Linked DNA regions of Homo sapiens: region 1 is linked to region 2. The links come from fine-mapping of genetic effects on gene expression. A gene starts in region 2. The other region holds a variant in brackets. All regions are shown on one strand. Distances are from middle to middle.

What was found. PIP is the estimated chance that this variant, and not a neighbour inherited with it, causes the effect.
Region 1: its variant is the best candidate, but not a certain one, in a credible set for the expression of DDX60 in whole blood (INTERVAL, PIP 0.62).

The regions. Positions count from the first base shown.
Region 1 is chr4:168,373,637-168,384,148 of GRCh38, forward strand. It overlaps DDX60L (DExD/H-box 60 like), which reads right to left. Exons shown (of 38, transcript NM_001012967.3): 31 at 6,090-6,194; 32 at 5,727-5,868; 33 at 4,718-4,839; 34 at 1,741-1,888; 35 at 30-172. Among named protein-coding and RNA genes, the nearest start is that of DDX60, 60 kb to the left of the region's middle. RefSeq lists enhancers at 2,946-3,115, 5,579-5,748. The variant T/C (reference allele first, on the strand shown) is at 5,176.
Region 2 is chr4:168,312,574-168,323,085 of GRCh38, forward strand. It overlaps DDX60 (DExD/H-box helicase 60), which reads right to left and starts at 6,179. Exons shown (of 38, transcript NM_017631.6): 1 at 6,049-6,179. RefSeq lists an enhancer at 6,113-6,442.

The DNA.
Region 1 (10,512 bases), 61 kb after region 2:
TTTGTACATAAGATGTATCCTTCACTTACCTGGTTGATAGTCTCTGGTCGAAGCAAATCATTATCTGTGTTCCCCGAAAGACAAACAAATGGTGAAATGGCTACTCTTCCTTTCTTGCAGCTCATCAAGTGAGACACGAGTTGGGAGTCTTCACATTCTTTACCTGTGAATTCTGACCATTTTGGACTAGGTCACGTTAGGTTTTAAAAATCAGCCCAAATGTTAACCCTTTCAAACTCACTGTAGGTCAAGCCACAGTAGGTGACATTCATCTCATCAGAATGAAAACTGATTGAGATATGGTGCATAAAGTCATTAACACAGCTTGGCACAGAGTAATCATTCAATCCATGTTGACTATTAACTTATTATCATTACTCTTTTTTATTACCTGTTATTTTTGCCTATGAACTCAGATATAACCTCAGAAACCTCCTAGACATGATGTTCAGGCAGCTCCTACCAGTGGATTTGGAGCTGGCATAAGAGATAAAACAGAGGTTCTGTCCAGCGAGTACCATCTCGCTGGACTTGGAAGGCACCAAGTCATGCACTCAGGTCTGGCTCGTTTTTCCCATCACGACACAATCACACACTCCCATCATCTTTTCTCTGCACTACTTTCCTTGCTTCCACCATTATTGTCTGCATTTGCTCATGCTGTGTCCTACATCAACAAATCTTGAGTAGCTACAATGCTTACCTCCCTGTCTTTTACTCCAACTATGACTATATTAGGAGACAGGGGAATATGGGAATCATTTTATGGCTCCACTCTTTACTCTTAGTCTAGCTTCTTTCCATTTATTCTCCCCTAAAAGTTTCCCGCTATAAAATTGAAATTTGGAAGCTTAGTTACTTTGCAATACCAGTTACTCCTCAATCAAGAACAAATAATTGAAGCAAAGAATGATATTTGCAACGTCTGCTAGAACTTTCCGTAATGATGGAAATATTCTACCTCTACTGTGTCCAAAGTAGAAGCCACTAGCACTGGAAAGTTAACGTGACTAAAGCTAAAGTGACTAAAGAATTAACTTTTCAATTGTTTTATTTTTAATCAACTTAATTTAAATAGTGACACGTAGCTAGCTGGTGGCTACCATGTTGGGTAGAATAGACTTACGCGATGTTGACTATGTGCTATGCACTGTTTTAAGAAACTTATAAACATTAATATACCTAATCCTCTAAAATTCTGTAAGCTAGGTAATATTTTTAGTCATTTCATTTTACAGATTAAAAAAATGAGACACAGAAAGATTAAGTAACTGGCATGAGACCTCATGGTTAATAAGTAGCAGAGCCAGGATTTAGACCTTGGCATTCTGCTGCCAGTGTTCACATTTGTAACCACTATGCAACTGCCCCTCAGGGGAAAAAAATGCCAGAAATTATGCCGTTTTCTTTTTCATCTGTCACTTTTTCTGATCCAGTTTTCCAACCTGAACAGATAGGCAACTTTCCATCAAAATGGTTCATGAATGACTTTTATTTTTTTTCCTCCATTGCCCAATTAATATTTGGTAATTATAAAGTTTTTTTTTAATTGGAAAACAGAGCCATTATCACACCCTACAATGGGCTAAATTGTTTTCTGGGGATAAAACACTTGGGTTAGTACAGCTGCCCTGTAATAAGCTCCTTTACCAGCTTTGAAGCATCCAATATCCAGAGGCTTTCTTAACCAAGATTGTTTACTCTTTAAATTGTTCCGGAATGGAACTAAAATCTGCTTACTGATTCTTGACAAAGGGAGTTGATGCTCTTTTTTCATGTTCACCGACTTGGAAGCAATCAGCAGGAAGGAGGCAAAATCCTTCATTACTGCCAGGTTATACTCATATAAAGCAGCTTTAAAATCCTCCGGGAGTTCGGCAAGGATCACCTATGGGCGAAATACATTTCAGAAAGATCTCTTTACTTTTATTTAAAAAATTAAACTGCTTGGTGATAAGATTGCAGCATAGTTCTGTAGATTGATGCTCATTCATCAAAACCCTTGATTACTTTACTCACCTGTGAGATTAAGGTAAAATTTCCTTTTGATTTCAACCAACATTTATAAATGTAAGTATCTTTCCTTAAAAAAGTTATTTTGACTCCACTTAGCCAAAACCACCAATTTAATAGAAACATGTCCTACACTGATCTTAAACTTAGGTATATTTCAGAGACTTGAGGGACATATTTAGAGAGCAAGTAACAAGTTAGTGTAGCAGTAGTAGCGTCAATGCTTTATTGAGTTCAGATTATGTGCCAACACTGTGCTTTGCTGCCCCAAGCACTTGTTATATGTTAGCTCAGTTAATCCTGAGAACAACCCTATGCAGTAAACATTTTCATCTACATTTTGTACATGAGGGAGCTAACCCTCACAGAGGTAAACTTGTTCCAAACCTGACAGGTAGTAGATAGAGAAGTAGCTGGTATTGCAAGCTAACTCAGCTTCCAAATTTCATGTTTAAAAACAAATTCTTTCAGAATTAGGACTAGAAGTTTCTTTAGTGTGAGTTAGAAATAGCTATGACATTAGAAATGTTCTTGGTTTTCTTCTGTTACAATTATGGGTTTTATTATTTATTTGATATTTTCCTTAATTTATTCATAACCTGTACTTTTCCAATAATTGAGGTATTTTATAAGGGTAAAGATAATACAATATGATCATATAAATCAAAATTTGGTAAAAAGGAAAGAAAAACAAGAAAGAGACTAAAATGGGGCACAAATTATATTCCAAGATTCCTAGGAGCAAGTGTGAATGACACATTTCAGAATGTCTATGAGATAAACAGCTATTTATTCTCAGCACTAATATCAGGTAAGAATTTTCCAGGGGGATTCTTACAAAAGGCAACCGTGTGGACATAATAAAGAATGCCCCTACCAACTCCTTACAGTGGATAGTATGACAATTTCCACAAGCCTACTTCGGACTCAGCTCCATCTGTGGATGGACCAAGACAAAAGAATAAATTGACAGGTGCAGCTCTACACTCTGGTCAAAGTGATATGGTCTCTTTACTGCTATGCCTTCCATGTCCTGCCATTGTGCCACTGCTGGACACCGTTCTAGGGCAGCACGTGCTGCTTACCATGTACACCTTGTGTTGTTTGCCACCTTCTCGAATGTGTATGCTATACAGCCCCATCAGGAGAGCAAGCTCTTGGAAGGTAGCAACTATGTTTCCCAATCATGATTTTTGCTATAGTTTACACATATTTATTGCTCAATAAATCTTTGCTAATTGACTAATATAGAGCAGTTATCCCAAATTATGGTACATAATATAAGAGGTACATGAGATGATTTAGTGTGACACACAGAACATTGAGTAATTATACATCAGTTTTAAAAAATAAAAAGTGGGCTGGGCATGGTGGCTCATGCCTGTAATCCCACCACTTTGGGAAGCCAAGGCGGGCGCATCACTTGAGGTCAGGAGTTTAAAACCAACCTGGCCAACCTGATGAAACCTCAACTGTACTAAAAATACAAAAAAATTAGCCAAGCGTGGTGGCGAAGCCTGTAATCCCAGCTACTTGGGAGGCTGAGGCAGGAGAATGGCTTGAACCTGGGAGGTGGAAGTTGCAGTGAGCTGAGATTGCGCCACTGCACTCTAGCCTGGGTGAGTGAGCAAGACTCTGTCTCAAATAAATAAATAAATAAATAAATAAATAAATAAATAAATAAATAAATAAAAATATCTTCTTTCCAGTCCTCTTCTATTCTTTCTGATAACCCTAGAAAGTCCAGAGGCAATAGACCACCATTGTTTCTCTAAAAGTTTATAATCTCTTTTTGTAGCAAAGAGAGAGAAGCTTCAGCTGAGAACCATGTTAACTGCATCTATTTTTATGGCTTCCTTAGTTTTGAAATCAAAGATCCTGGCTTTCTATTTACAGTAGTAGTAAATATGAAGTTTCCTTTTTAAATACTTTAAAATGTGTATGCATTTAAGAAAATGATTAACAGTTCCAGTGGTTTGCAATGTGGATATATGTCAGTAACTAAAATTGGGTGCTCAGGTCTGGAGGTATATCCAGAGGCATTGTGAGGTCAGAAAGCCTAGATTAATGCTAATTACCTTTTTGTTCTCTATTCACTAGGGTTACTGGATAGAAACAAGCTTCTTCTACATTCCCAGGTTCTAATGCACATTTTCTTGGGTTCTGTTTGCTTGTTATTATTTTGTTGTTGTGTCTTTAAAAAAATAAGAAATTGGAAACAAACAGTGTTACAAAAAAACTTAGAAAATAATTTTTCTTTCAGTCTCTCAACCCTTAAGTTAGGGGATTCTTTCTTAGGTGACCACCTCAATATTGTCTGAAGAGGACATTAGAGGTCATAATGTAATTCCTTCCCTGCACTCCCATCCCTAGCTGTAAACAATCCCAATGGAACTATAGGTTCAGCAGTAGGGCTGTCATTCTATTTAAATGACTATTTGTGTATGTAATCTCTGTTGCTACTGAATTACATAATTTGCTCCAATAAAGTGAAAAAACTTTAGGGATAAGAATTGTTTGTTAGATTAGCAGGGGAAGATGTTTGAACTAAAAATTAAATAGAACTCTAATTATGAAAAGACAACACTATTAAAACAAATGGAGTAGCTTATATTAATTTAACCCTATAGGTACTGAATGCTTTCCAGTAGCATACATTTAATAACTATCATTATTATATCATTGTAAGTATAACAAACTTTACCTTTGACTGAGAAAAACTTAAATTAGCATTTTGGAATTTTGCTGGAATATATTTTCTTCCAAACAAATTTGCCAATACTAACACGAGCTTTTCCATCACATCTTGGGAAAATTGTTGTGAGCCTATTGAAATAAAGAGCATTATTATAAATAAGAATAATGTTGATTCCATTTATTTTCTGCCTAAATTTGTTTTTATAGTACATTTCCTTTTGTTGAAGGCAAAATTTTCTAGCAAATATATACCTCAGAAATTGACCATATTTGCAATACTATGTGCACATTTATTTTTTTGGGTAAGACAGGAGATTTTATATTCTGTGCCTTGTTTTTCCATCCTTGCTATACCCGCCCTAGTTCCCACCCCAGAATGTTTACTAACTGGTTTCCTGACTTGCACTCTCCTTTCTTCAGGCCATCTTGAGAGTGATCAGCCTTTCCAAAGCATGAATATAAACA[T/C]ATCCCTCCTTTACTCAAAAACCTTTGAGGGTATCTCAACGGCTAATTGAAAAATCCAGGTTCCTTGGCCTGCTCTTTAGGGTGTTTCAAATCCTGTCAAAACAAAGCTTCCAAACTTACCTACCAACACTTCTAAACACTAGCTCTAGGTTCTGGTCATCTTGACCTACTCTCCACTCCCCATAACGCATGAGCACCATACTGTGGGCATTAAAAGGTGGCTAGGTTTAATTAACTGGGCTCTGAAGCATACTAAAATCATATGACCATCAGAAACTTATTGTCTTTCTATGCTTCTCCGTTTTCTCTTCTGCAAATATTCTTTATCAGTTAAGTAATATATAAGTAGCCCTCAAATACTCTTTATTAGAATAAATATCAGTTGACTTTTAGTGTCTAATTTTTTGGCATCTGTAAATCTGAACATATACTTAGTATTTATTTGCTTTAATAAATGAGAAGGAGGAAGAAGAGAAAAACATATCTGCGGTTTTGGCTATTCAATAAATATGTTGCCATTTTTCGACTACAGGTATAAAACCCAAGCTTACCTTTCCAGGCTGGCTTACAGAGATTATGGAAAAGGCCTCTCTTGAGAAAATTTACAAAAACAAGATTTGAAGGTTCATGACCATGCAAATATGATGCAAGTCCTGCAAATTTCTTTGGATTACCCTTTTTATTTAAATAGTCCTAAAAATGAGAAACAAAAAGTTGATTTAACTTGTCATGTACTCAAATACCATAAAATACCAGTGTGAGTGACTGACAAATATTACCTGACTTCATTTATTAATAAATGATAAGTAACATTATCATTGAATGCAGATTATAGAAATTTCAGTTGGTTTAGCATAGAAAGAAGTTTACACGGTACTAGTTACAGAGAACAAAAAGCCAAAGCACGATGATACCTCTTTGATAAGGAGCTGCAAGGAAAACAAAAAGTAAAGTTTCAAAGTCTCCATGGCTCTTCGTCTCTTAAAAGACAGCAATGAATGCTTTAGCACTGACAACACCTATAAAAGAAGAGTACTTTAATTTATCTAGTTTTAAACAGTATTTGTAAATACTGATATGTAATAAATAGTACACATACATACTATATAGATAAGGTTACCAGATCTTACGTGAAAGTAAATTTCATTTGATTTCATATTATCTCTTTGATTGTATCTTCACATGGCACATGCTTCCTTGAATTAAATACATCATATAAAGCAGAACTGTTATACATAACCCAGACTGGCAAATAATCTGCTAAATCCCTGAAACAGTGGTGACCAATAGTGGCCTGAAAAAATGAAGTATGAAAGCCAATCCGGCTTACAAGATTAGTTGTCTTAGGCCATTCTAAAGGTAAATAGAGTAATTATATTGTTCTGAATCTTGAGTTATCCCATTAAACCTAATGGAATTAGGTAGATTGCAGTCAACAGAATGGAAATATTTGGATCTGTGTCATCACCCAAATTTCATGTCAAATTGTAATCCCCAGTGTTGGAGGTGGGGCCTGATTGGAGGTGATTGGATCATGGAGGTGAATTTCCCCTCTGGTGCTGTTCTCATGATAGTGAGTTATCATGAGATCTGGTTGTTTAAAAGTGTGTAGCACCTCCCCTCTACCTCTCTTCCTCCTGCTCCAGCCATGCATGTAACACACGGCCTACTTCTGCTTCACTTTCTGACATGATTGAAAGTTTCCTGAGGCCTACCCAGAAGCAGAAGCTACTTATGCTTCCTGTACAGCCTGCAGAACCATAAGCCAATAAAATGTCTTTTCTTTATAAATTACCCAGTCTCAAGTGTCTCTGTATAGCAGCGTGAGAATGAACTAATACAGGAAGTTGATACTGAGGAGTGGGGCACTGCTATAAAGATATCTGAAAATGTGGAAGCGATTTTGGAACTGCATAGTGGACAGAGGTTGGAATTTTGTGGAGGGCTCAGAAGAAGACAGGAAGATGAGGGAAAGTTTGGATCCTAAAGACTTGTTAAACTGTTGTGATCAAAATGCTAATAGTAATATGGACAATGAAGTCCAGGCTAATGAGGTCTCAGATGGAGATGAAGAACTTATTGGGAACTGGAGCAAAGGTCAATTTTGTTAAGTGTTAGCAAAGAGGTTAGCTGCATTGTGCTCCTGCTCTAGGGAACTGTAGAACTTTGAACTTGAAAGAGATGATTTAGGGTATGTGGCAGAAATAAATTTCTAAGTAGCAAAGTGTTCAAGATGTAGCCTGGCTGCTTCTATCAACCTATGCGCATATGTGTTAGCAAAGAAATCACCTGAAACTAGAACTTGTATTTGAAAGGGAAGCAGAGTATAAATCTGAAAAATATGCAGCCTAGCCATGTGGCAGAAAAGAAAAGCCTATTTTCTGGGCAGGAATTCAAGCAGCCTGCATGTATTTGTATAACTAAAAGGAAGGCAAATGCTGATAGTCAAGACAATTGGAAAAGTCCTCACAGACATTTCAGAGACCTTTGCAGCATTCCCTCCCATCACAGGCTGGAGTGCAGTAGGTCATAGCTCACTGCAACCTCAAACTCCTGGACTCAAGTGATCCTCCTGCCTCAGCCTCCCAAATAGCTGGGACTACAGGTATATGCCACCATACCCAGCCAGTGAAACTTTTTCTAATAAAGAAACCAAAGCAATTAAAATAGAAATCAAATTAAAAATCTAATTTAATAAATATACTTCTTCAAAAACAACTTGAATGTGATAAATTGAAAAGGTTCTGAATATGATAAACACTATCAATTTTTTTTAAAAAAAAAAACTATAACTAGAAACTTCTCCTAAAAAAGTAACATATAAGAATAAAGAAAAGGATCCATATACATGGGCAGAAAAAGTCAAGTGACCTACAAGAAAACAGCAATCAGTAGGGCCACAGATTATATCTCCACAACAGTAGATGCCAAAGAAAATGAAGCATCGACAATTCTGAAGACTAATGGCTCAAATCCAAAAAATTTATGCCAGGTTAAATTGTCCTTACTACAAAAGAAAAAATCTCCTCAAATACGCAGGAGCCCAGAAAATATGCCACCCTCACAAACGTTATTATATGAAAAACAATAACAAAAACCTTTAAAGTGTACTACTCTCTCTTCCTGGGAGAGTAATCAAAACCAAGAATGGGGCCACTTTTACATAGAACTGGGTGTCGCTGTTCTCTGTGACTATCAAAAGGCACACACCTGACTCATTACAGGGTTCTGGGAAGACTCTTTGTCTTGGCAAGTGGAATCTGACGTAACTGGCCATGATAATGAATATATAAGAATATGGAAAACTTGGTAACCTTACAATGATATTTTATTAAATTTAAATTTTAATGTGAATTATATATTACTCAACATGGGGTTACATCCCCCAAAATTGTTCTGATTGAAAACCTCAGGCAAATTTACCAAATTCTGACATCTAGTTCAACATAACTGCATCCATTCTTTAAAAAGCAAACACTTACCCACATTTAGGTAGAAAAGACTGGAAGAAATATACCAAAATAATAAAGCAGTTTCCTTTGAGTAGTGGAACTATCGCTTCTTGGCCTTTTGGCTAAGATCAAGTGAGTAGTGGAACTAGGTATGGGTGATTTTTCCTTCTTTCAGCTTTTCTATGGTTCCAAATAAACTTTTATAAACAGGTTATTTTATATTTAAAATATAATTTTTATTTTTAATACAGCAATACTGTTTTCCTCATTTTTATCTGGAATTAAGAGTGACACATTTGAGAATACATTCAATCTTTCATTTCACTTATAATTCTTCTAATAATTCTTTAATGTAAAAATTTCATATTGATCTAATTAATTAAGTGGCAAATGCTGACAACATAACAGAATTTAAGGTAGAAGCAAATCTATTTTTCCACAAAAAATATATAGACAGTCAAAAACAAGTTATATTATCAGTTTTCACTCATACTTGACTTCCTTTATAAAGGAAAAAGTAAAAATCAACATATAAAAAGAATGAAAAAGTTAGCAAGTGCTTTTCCCATTCTTCTCTTTAATGAACACTAAAGCAAAACAAAAAAAACCTAAAACTAAAATCATAAGACCTGAGACTACAAACAATAATAGCTAGCATTTATGTGTTTACTACTCATCGAATATGATGCTAAGAAGTCCTTGACTTGCATTAACTATAATTTATAGTGGTTGTTATTGCCATTTTGTAGCTGACAGTTCTGAGATTTAGGAAAATGTAATTGCCTTATTAAAGTTAAATAGTCAGTAAATAATTGAACCAGGGACCTATTCCAGACCTTTATGAGTCTATAGCCAATATTCAACCACTATACTATATTGCTTTTCACACATTAAAATAACCCTGGTAATTCTTAATGCCTTATGGTCTTTGGTGGTAAAACAAAATTATTTTTTTCTGTCCTGAAGAAACATATAATAATCAAGAAAATGCAAAGCATTAAAAGAGTGATGAAACTGAAGAGCTATTGCTACTGTTGACGTGAAAAATACTGGGGCAAAATTAATATAGAGAGTTCATTTGGGCCAAGGTTGAAGACAGCTGTCTGGGACAGACACACTTCCAAGTTGTCCCAAAAAGTATTCTGCTCAGCCTTTGCTACAAGTAGATTTTTAAAGGCAAAAGGGGACAAGAAGTGGGCTGATACAAAGTTTTTTGACAGGAGTTCTCACAGTTTTACAGAAATAACATTGATTTGTGATTGGCTATACATTGTTGAACTACAAGGAATGAGGTATGGTGTCCAATGTATGGTGTTTTATGGCTACTTCATGTCAGTTAGCCTAGAGTTCACATAGGAAGTGGCTTCAAGAGGTAATTATTTAGCTCACGAGGGGAGTGAGACATGACTGCTGTCACACCCTGTCACACTCCAATGCCTCTCTGGGCCTGATAATTAAAGGGCACTCACATTCCTCAGATAAAAAGTTTCTTGGCCAAGTGCACTGGTTCACACCTGTAATCTCAACATTCTGGGAGGCCAAGGCAGGTGTGATGGTTAACACTGAGTGTCAACTTGATTGGATTGAAGCATTCAAAGTATTGATCCTAGGTGTGTCTTTGAGCGTGTTGCCAAAGGAGATTAACATTTGACTCAGTGGGCTGGGAAAGGCAGACCCACCCTTAATGTGGGTGGGCACCATCTAATCAGCTGCCAGCATGGCCAGAATATAAAGCAGGCAGAAAAAATGAAAAGGCTAGACTGACTTAGTCTCCCAAACTACATCTTTCTCCTGTGCTGGATACTTCCTGCCCTTGAGCATCAGACTCCAAGTTCTTTCATTTTGGGACTCAGACTGGCTTCCTTGCTCCTCAGCTTGCAGATGG
Region 2 (10,512 bases):
ATGCACTTGAGCATTTTGTCATGGACACTAAATATTGAGACACTTGCCATTCAATATGTTAGGGCTATGAAACAGATAGGTAGATACACACATGATTTATGGATAGATAGTAGATAGATTGATTGATATAGATAGATATAGATGATGGATACACAGATAGATAGATAGATAGATATGATAGAGAGAGAGAGATTCCTATTCCATGATAGTAAGGAACATATAATGGTGATGCACATGCTGATATTAAATATTACAATAATAATGCAAGGAAGTATATGACTGTAATGACAAATAAGTTTAAAGAAAAATGGAATTACTGTGGGCTGGGGAGTTTAGGGACCCTTAATGGAGACACGAGCGTAAGTATGGTCTCTCACTCACTCAGTTACTATCTTATTTCAAAGATTATAGAGTATCTACACTTTACAAAACATTGTACTTGCTGAAACATATGCAAATATGCATGAAGCATGATTCTCTCCTTGTACAACCCAGTGTAAGTTGAAAGATAACTAAGTGACACACTACATCTAATTTGCTGTGTTCTAGCAGAAATGGCACAGGAAGCCATTAGAGAATTGAGAGGGAGTTCCTAAATCAGAATGAAGGGATCAGGGTCCTGTGTTCTGAGGTTTCAAGAACAGGTTGAAAAGATGATGAAGACTTATGAAAGCATGTTGGGGAAAGTGAGAGATATAGAGAATTACTTTTCAGGTAGCAAAATCAGCATCAGTTTAATGCATAAAGTTGTGAAACTACATGACAAGTTTGAGATCCTATGGGTTGTTCTACATGGCATAGGACAGGGTGACTCATTGGAGATGACATTGGAAAGGTAGGTTAGAACCAGACTATAATGGGTCTTGTGCCCAGGTCAGGAGATTAGGTATTTTCAAAAAACTCTCTGTCACCCATTTCATGCAATCCTCCACCTCACTAACTGTGCATTGGCCATACTATCTTTCTTCAACTCTCCAAATTGTACCAAGCTCAAATGGAAAAAAATGGGTCAGTGAGAACTGAACAGGCAAGAGAGAATTAACCCCAAGTATATTACAGAAAACTTCAGAAAGGATAGCATCAGATTCTACAAGATGAAATAAGTTAATTTACAGGTTCCCAGATGTTCACGATGCTCTTAGAGTCTCAGGAATTTTTTTATGCCACTCCTAGGACAAAATCAATAGCTAACCGTTTCATTTATTAAGTAGTTAGATACAAACAAATTAATAACTATTTATGTCCTGACAACTTAGAAATTGTTTTAAGAAATAATATACATAGATTAAAAGGAATAATATAGTTTTTATAATGAAATATAACTATGACTGAGACGTGAGTGCCCGTTAAACACTGTGAAACTTTCAGCAATAGCTATGGTGACAAAATAAAACTGCGTTAATGGGCAATCCCTCCTTAATTTGACAATCAAGGGATTCCGTAGCCTGCCTATGGGAAGTTTGAGATCCTACAGGTTGCTCTGCATGACATAGGACAGGGTATGCAAGACAATGCGTGTAAAGCCTAATAGGCTTTCCTCTTACATGCCCTATACTAAAGTAGGCTTACACACCCTAGGCTTTCCTCTTATATACCCTATACTAGAGCTACCCTATTAACCTCTGCCCCAACACATGCACGCCCTAACACCTAAACAGAATTCACAGTCATTATCCCCACTTCTCTGTCATTTAAGGGAGAGACATGCTAGAGATCCAGCCACCTGTAGTAACTAATGATTGAACACTCACACACACACACACACACACAAATTAGTACCAATAGACATTTGAGGCACACAAAAAAAGCAAAAATAAGAAACCAGATGAATAAGCATGATGCAGAGACAGAAAAGACCTTCAAAATTTTCTAATTACTGCTTTCAAAGAATTAAAAATATTTCTCATAAAATAGTAACAGGCTGCTAGAGAGAGAGAAAGAGAAAAAGAAAGCATGCAAGTATTCGTACACATTTAAAACATAATTTTACAAGGAAGAAAGTCATTGCAGAACAATAAAATGAGCATGCTGGAATTTTTAGTCAGTGATCTGTAGGGTTAAAGTCCAGGAAATTTTGTAAAGGATAAAAGTAAAAGACAAAGAGATGAAAAAATTCTAAAAATACTAAAATATCCAGGAATAAGTCAATAAGCTCTTTCTCCCCCTACTAATATTTCTAGTAGGAGATAACTAAGATTCCAAAATGAGTGGGGATAAAAATAATCAAAGATATATACTTAAACTAATATACTAATATTAGACTAGAACTAAAGAACAACATAATGTGTTTAGATTGAAATGTTTCTCTAACTACTGAGTAGAAATAATGACAAAAGAGAAAACTACGCCTAGGCACAACTTGTTAAAATTGCAGAGCTCCAAGAATAAAGAGAAAGACAGAAAAGGTACAAAGAAATGGAAGTCAGGCCATATGAGAACTGGTTTAAGAAATGAACACTGTTGGCCGACTACTTGCATTTTAATCTTGGTTCTGAAATATACTATAGTTCTATAAGCTTAGACAAGGTATTTACCATCTCTGAGTTTCAATTTACTTATCTATAAAATTGGAACAATAATATTACTCACCTCTGATTGTGTTTTCAAGCTACTTAAATGTATGAACTGATGGATACGAATTGATTAAAATAATACCTGGCACACAGAATTAATTAAAATAAGCAACATTCCTGGATGTTTTGATAAAATAAAGCACTTTCAGATTTCTAAAGGGAAAATAATTTGAACTTAGAATTCTGCATCTAAATAGTGATTCAATTCATGGAGGAGGCAAAAAGATGTAATTAGACTTCTAAGAAGTCATAAATTTCACCAACCATATATCCTTTTTTTATTTTAAGTTCTGAAATACATGTGCAGAACATGCAGGTTTGTTACATAGATATACATGTGCCATGGTGGTTTGCTGCACCTATCAACCCGTCATCCAGGTTTTAAGCACCTCATGCATTAGGTATTTGACCTAATGCTCTCCCTCCCTTTGCCCCCAACCCTCCGACAAGCCCCAGTGTGTGAGGTTCCCCTCCCTGTGTCCATGTGCTCTCATTGTTCCACTCCCACTTATGAGTGAGAACATGTGGTGTTTGGTTTTCTGTTCCTGTGTTAGTTTGCTGAGAATGATGGCTTCCAGCTTTATTCATGTCCCTGCAAAGGACACGAACTCATTCTTTTTTATGGCTGCATAGTGTTCCATGGGGTATATGTGCCACATTTTCTTTATCCAGCCTATCATTAATGGGTATTTGGGTTGGTTCCAAGTCTTTGCTATTGTAAATAGTGCTGCAATCAACATACATGTGCATGTGTCTTTACAGTAGAATGATTTATAATCCTTTGGGTATATACCCAGTAATGGGATTGCTGGGTCGAATAGTATTTCTGGTTCTAGATCCTTGAGGAATGGCCACGCTGTCTTCCAAAATGCCAACTATATATCTTAAATGATAATTTTATTTAAAGAGATAATACAGAAAATTGGGGAAAACCCATCAAGAATGAAGACAATCAAAAAACCATGAAACTTTGTGTGATTTAGAAAAGTTAAAGGAAGCTATAAAGAAAAACAAGAGAACCCATGGTACTTCGAATTTACAAAAGTCTATTTCAAACAGTAATTTTAACAACATAGAACTACATGTCTTAGCCTAGCAATTCCTAGATTGCTTCTACACTGAGTAATGTGTACATACTCATAATTTTGTCACTGCTGTTTACTTCTTTTTTACTGTTGACTCAACATACAAACAAATCACAAGAATCAAAGTCACAAACTGCTGTAAAATATGATAAACCTTGACAGTATGAAAATAATAATATAATTAACCAACTTGGCAGTTCACAAAGGGATGAATGAAAGAAAAATAAATATGAATGCTAAATTCTTCATCTTTCACAGCAGGATGTCCAGCAATAGCATCTGAAGACAATATATGAAAAAAAATAATGGTTTATGGAATCAAGAAATTATCCTGCTTTTCTTCTAAGTACTGCACCATCGCATTACCAAAGAGTAGATACAAGAGTGATTCATTTCTAGAAATAATGCAGCTAATAAACACAGAAGGAATGATAGAATTAGAATATCACCATTTTACAACTCCTAATGAATTAACAGATCTTGGTATTTTTAAACGATAGCACAACAAAAATAGAGGCAAGTGTCCACACCATCAGTGAAGTATTGTAGTTCTCCCAGCCAAAAAAAAAAGAAACCCAAAACTTGGGAGGCCAAGGCGGGCAGATCACCTGAGGTCGGGAGTTCGAGACCAGACTGGCCAACATGGTGAAACCCCATCTCTACTAAAAATGCAAACATTAGCTGGGCATGGTGACAGTCACCTGTAATCCCAGCTACTTGGGAGGCTGAGGTAGAAGAATCGCTTGAACCTGGGAGGCAGAGGTTGCAGTGAACTGAGATCAAGCCACTGCATTCCAGCCTGGGCAAAAGAGCAAGACTCCGTCTCAAAAAAAAAAAAAAAAAAAGAAGAAGAAGAAAAAAAAGAAAACCTGAATCTGATCAAAACGCTAGTAGTAATGATTAATTTACAAGAAATTTAGAGGCCAGCAAAATATGTTAAATGACACCACAGGGATTAGGACACATACACACACACACACATAAACACACACCCAACAGGACACACACATACAAAAACAAACAATCATAAGACCACAAATCTTACAAACGAATAAATTAAAAGGGGATGAAAGAAATTGCAAGAACCTTATAAGGCTTATCCTCCAATCACAGTAGTGTCAGAACCATATTCTGATTCAAACAATCTTAAAAAGGAAGAAGAAAAGAAGAAGGGAGGAAGAGAAATGGAAAAGAGAAAAAAGGAGGGAAGAGGAAAGGCGCAAAGGGGAGGTAAAGAGGAAAAAAATGGGGGCAAGGGAAGGGAAAGGAAATCATGGATTCTGTATTGGAACAGAATGGTGGAGCTACTTGATGAAAGGCATCAAGCTCCTGAAACCCTGCCTGGAGAAGAGCTGGTGGGTTAAAATGGCTTCCAGTACCCGGTATAACCCTCTCCCCTTGAGTGTGGACAGGACCTGTGAATTTAATGGCATAGTCTCTTTAATGATTCGGTTATATTATGTAAGACTTCATCATAGTAGACTCGGGAGATTCCCCCAAAGAGGCTTATACCTTCTTTAAAGGTACCCTATACCTTCTTTAACGGTATAAGCCACCTTGTTGTGAGAAGGCCACTGTAGCTAAGATCTCAGGGTGAAATCTAAAGACATGGGAACCCCCAGCCAACAGCCAGCAAGAAAGCAGGTAACCTCAGTCCTTTAGCTGCAAGAAACTGAATTCTTCCAACAACCTGAATGAGCATCCATGGTGTCCCATGAGGCCACAGCTCTGACACCTTGATTTCAGCTCGATGAGATGCTGAACAGAGAACTCACTTTACCCATGCCTGGGCTTCTGATCCACAGCAATTGTAAAATAATAAACTTGTAATGTTTTAAGCCACTATACCTGCCCCTTGACCAGGAATAAATTAAGTTACTGGAGTAGGAAATAAATTTCTATTGTCTTAAGCCACTGAAATTTAAGGGTGCACAGAAATTACCTGGGGGAATCTTATTAATAAACGCAGATTCTGATTCTACAAGTCTGGAGCAGGGATTGAAGGTGGAAGCTTCTTGCTGCTGTCAATGTACAGGTTTTACTGGCTGTGCTTAGATATGATGTCCCTTAATTTCTCCTCAACCTCCATTACCCAGCTCCCACCTTTGACGGGGACTCCTTAAATGCCTAACTAAGCACTCCTCTCTGTCTCAGACTTCAGGCCTTTCGCGGTTGTCCCTTTCCTCCGCCCCTCCCCACGCCCGGCCTTCCGGGCCAGCAGGGGGCCCGTGCGCCACGGCCTTGCGATCCCAGGAGGTTCCCCAGATTCCCGCGCCCCGAGCCCAGCACTCCTGGGCCACCTCCCTGTCCGGTCCGTTGAAGAAGACCTAGAACTCCCGCTAGACAGCTCCGCCCCAGGCTCTTCCCAAGGGACATCCCCGGCTCCTCACCGCGGACTCAGGACCGGTGGTGTCCAAAGACCCGCGAGCTGCGCGCCCCGCGGGGAGGGAGTGAAACAGAGACCTAGCGCAGAGCCCAGGTGGAAGTTCCAGGTTACCCCAGACCTGGCCTAGGACTCGGCGCTCTGAGCCACCGCAGCCAGTCTTTTATGCATCCGGCGGGAGTTTCGGTTTCCTTTCTCCTCTCAGAAGCACTTAGGTTTCAGTTTCCCTTCAGCACGAATTAGGCGAGGCACTTTCGTGGAAAGTTTAGCATCCTTCCCTTCAATCAGAATCTTAAGAAGGGGAGCATGGCGAGACGTTAGTTAAAAGGTATGAAGTTACAATAGCTAGGAAGAACCAGTTCTGGTATTCTATTCTGCAGTAGGGTGTGTATAGTTAACAATAATGCATATTTCAAAATAGCTAGAAGAGAGAATTTTGAATATTCTCATCACAAAGAAATAGTAAAGTTTTGAGGTAATAGATGGGCTAATTATCCTGATTTGATCATCACACAATGTATACATGTATTGAAACGTCACATTGTACCCCAAAAATATATACAATTATTATGCGTCAATTAAAAATAAAATGAAACTAAAAAAAACCTTAAAAGAGAGAGACAAAGGCAATAAAAATGGGCTTTGGAATTTGGGCATAAATATAGAGTAAATTGAGGCAGAAAAATTTGTAACATCTAAACAAGATAAAATCAAGAAGAGTTAGAATTTAGAAATTGATAAAATGTAAAAGACACTGTGGAATCTGAAACCCCACAATGAAATTGGAGATCTTGCTGCTTCTACTTGTATGCAAAAAGAAAAAAGAAAGTATGTAACAATACATGAACTTTGAGTTTCTGTTATGAGAAGCTGATGATTACTGTTCTGTATAAACTGTAATTGGTACTTTCATGGGCCAAGAATCAACATTAAAAAATAAATTGAAAATGCAGAATGGTCACATTTATTTGTGCCTCAAATTGATGAAATGTTCTCTTAATTTTTGCCTGTTGATACTTGCAGTGTGGGTTTCGATACTCATCTCCTTTCCTTTCAGTGCCCTCGTATGCTTGATTTCATTAATGCTATAAATATGCATTCATATATTGGAAATAGAAGAGGGTGTGGAGGAAAGACAGCAGTGAATTTGGGTAATCAGCATGATAAGAAGCCACAGGCTGCTTTGTCTACAAGGAAAGGAAAGAGCCAAGGTCCAGGCACTGCTCCACAGGGAACACAGAACAGAGAGAGTAGTGAATGATACTTTGTCTTGTGAAAAATTAGAGAGTCAAGTTGTTAAAAGAGGGGGATATGGGGAAGGAGGACATTTCTCACATCCATCAGACAATTACTTGTTTATTCATTTGTTTAGAAATTCACGTGTTTGTTAGTGATGAGATTAAGAAAGAAAATAAAAGACTCTAGAATTTAACACATGATTGGTCTTAAATCAGCCAATATTCCTGTCTCCTTCACTGTGATCTCTGATGTACCTGCCTGGGGTAGGCTGAATAATACCCTGCACTCCTCCCTCCAAAAGAGGCCAAAATCCTAATTCCTGGAACCTATGAATACAGTAACTTTCATAGCAAAAGTAACTTTGCAAAATAGATTAAATAAGAATCTTTAGAAGAGGAGATTACCCCTTACCCGGGATTATCCAGGTGGGCCCAAGGTCATCAGAAGGGCCTTTATAAGAGGGAGACAGGAGTTCGAGGGGCAATGTGATGATAGAAACAGTCAGTGACAGAATGTGGGGACACTACACAGATGGCGTTGAAGACAGTGGAAGGGACCACGGGCCAAGGAGTCTGGTGGTCTCTAGAAACTACCAAAGGCAAGGAAACATTTTTTTTTTCTAGAGCCTCCAGAAATCAGCCCTGATAACACCTTGACTTCAGCCCAGAGAGACTGATTTTGAACCTCTGAGCTCAGAACTGTAAGAGAACAAACTTGTGTGGTATTAAGCCACTAAATTTGTGGTAATTTGTTACAGCAGCCATAGAGAACTAATACAATATTGCAAACTGTATTGTAGGAAATGAATAACATATTTGCAAACAGCAGAAATAATGGATTGTGTTATAACAAGAGGTAGAATTAATTCAGACAGCTACTATGTGCTAAGCAATATGCTAATACCATATCAATGATCACAGCAAGTTCATGAGGTGTGTACTATGATTTCTGTCATTCTGTAGATAAGAAAAATAAAGCTTCGAGGGATAAAACAGCTAATAAATTATACTAAGATTCAAAATGTGGTCTAACCCAATGGCCTATCTACAACATTCTCTATTACATAATTTCATCAAATGCTTCAAATTCTACAACTGAAAGTGTTTCAGCTAGTGGACAAATGATTTTTTTTTGCTTAAATTATAAAGTTTTTTAGAATATATGATGTTCTACAGTTGTTTCGACTTTCAGTGACCGGATTTATCAGGTGAGAGTTCAAGACAACTTTGACTCATCCTCTTCAATTTTCCACCCCAAAGTATGTAAACACACAGAAACTTTTTATTTTTTTTTTACTTTTTCACTTCAACAGCCTACTCCCATGACCACACCCTGGACTTTGTTCTGAAGCTTGATAGTCACGTACTTTATTTTTCCTTTTAGACCCCTCCCTTTATGCCCTACACTTTAACCTCTGAGGACTCCCAAATGTTTGTCCTATCAGGGTGAACTCCATGAGCCAACACTTCAACTCTCCTCTTAATTAACATGTTCAACTGCTTGAACCTACTGACTTTCCTCTACACTTGCCTATAATTTGTTAATCCTGATTAATTCAAGTTTTCTTTTCTTTTTGATACCTGGCCACCAAGGGGAATGACCCAGTTAGGATCTCATCAAATGTATTATTTAACAACACAGCTGATACCTTTTTTTCTGTTCCCCTCAGCCTTCTGCATATTTCACAATGACAGTTACAATTCAGCACTTTACCATTCTCAAGTCTTTTAAATGATAGACCATCTCTTCTGTTTTCAAGGAGAATTCTCTCCAGCTTTCTGATAACTCCATATTCCAGTCTCACACAGAGTTTAAGCAGAACACACAGCATGCCACTTACACACAACATAACTAGCCTTCTAGATCTGGGTTTGGATCTCCCCTCAAGCATCCTAGCCCATCATTCTTCAGTTTGTTGTGTATTTTAACATCTCTTTGTCAACTAAAACATAGTGTTCATTCCACTAATAGGTTCAATTAGAACCTATTCAATTCAATAGAACTCAATTCAATAGAATTCAATTCTAATTGAACCTATTGAATTGAATAGGTTCAATAGGTTCAAACTTCCATTTTCAAACAATAAGAAAAATGATGTCATGCCCGATTTCAGCCCTTCTCTTTTCAGCATGGTGCCCTGTAGTGGTCTTCATCCATTGGCTACACTTCTTCACCTCCCTTCAAATTTCTCAGGCCCATTAGCCTAAATCTGATCTGGAACTGCTCTGTCAAAGATATCCAATGAGGATCCACTAATTGACAAATCCAAACAATGCTTGTTTAGTCCCTGTTTGATTTACTTGCCTCTGTTCAGCATTAGAAAGATAGTTTGTACAGCCCCTCTCTTCTAAAGTGCCTCTTCTCCCTTGATTTCAGTTACAATCTTCTCCTTCAAATCAATTTCTTTTCCCACCTTCTCTGTAAGGATCAGCAGAATCATCACATAACTACTGCTCAAGTTAGAAACCTGGGAGCCATTGTTGCATCCTCACTTCCCTCAAATCCCAGTAAATTCCAACTCCAAACACTTACAGAATCTTGAGTCTCTTGACTCTTCCATTTTTCCAAAGGCTAGAGCAAGCCTCATCATTTCTCATCTGGATTATTGAAACAACCTTTTCACTTTCTAACTCCAGTCTGTCCCTCCAATTCATTTTCTACTCTGCTGCATTTTTTCAGCAGGTAAAACTGAGCACATCAAGACCCCATTAAAAAACACTTCAATATATGCTCATTGCTTCTAGATCAAACTTTCCTATCAATATTTCCTCTCTTCTTAGAACACTTCAAATAGTTTATTCACCTCCTCTTCTCTCCATTGGTGAGGGAATGATTCCCACCCTAGGGGAAAGGGATGGCCAGACTCATGGCACTTGACACGGAAGTTTGACAGCAGTTTATTAGTCACATGTCCTCCCAGCCAAGGGAGAAGGAAACTGTGTGCCACACAGGGCCACACCGGGATGGAACTCAGGAGCAAAGTGAAAAAGCAGGGACTATGGGAACCAGGGTCTGCAATTACCAAAGGATGGGGGGAAGCTCCCTGTTTCCCACAGGAGGATGTGATTGTTTGATTGAATAATTTTGCTGGCTGACTAGACAGTGAAATCCAAAAGTTAAGTGCAACTGGTAGGGCTGATAGAGAAAGAGCTAGGTGGGAAGGCTTTGGAGCTGGGTGCAGAGTATATCTGGTGAGAGCCCAGAACTACTGGTTAGGTCTCTGGGGCCCCAA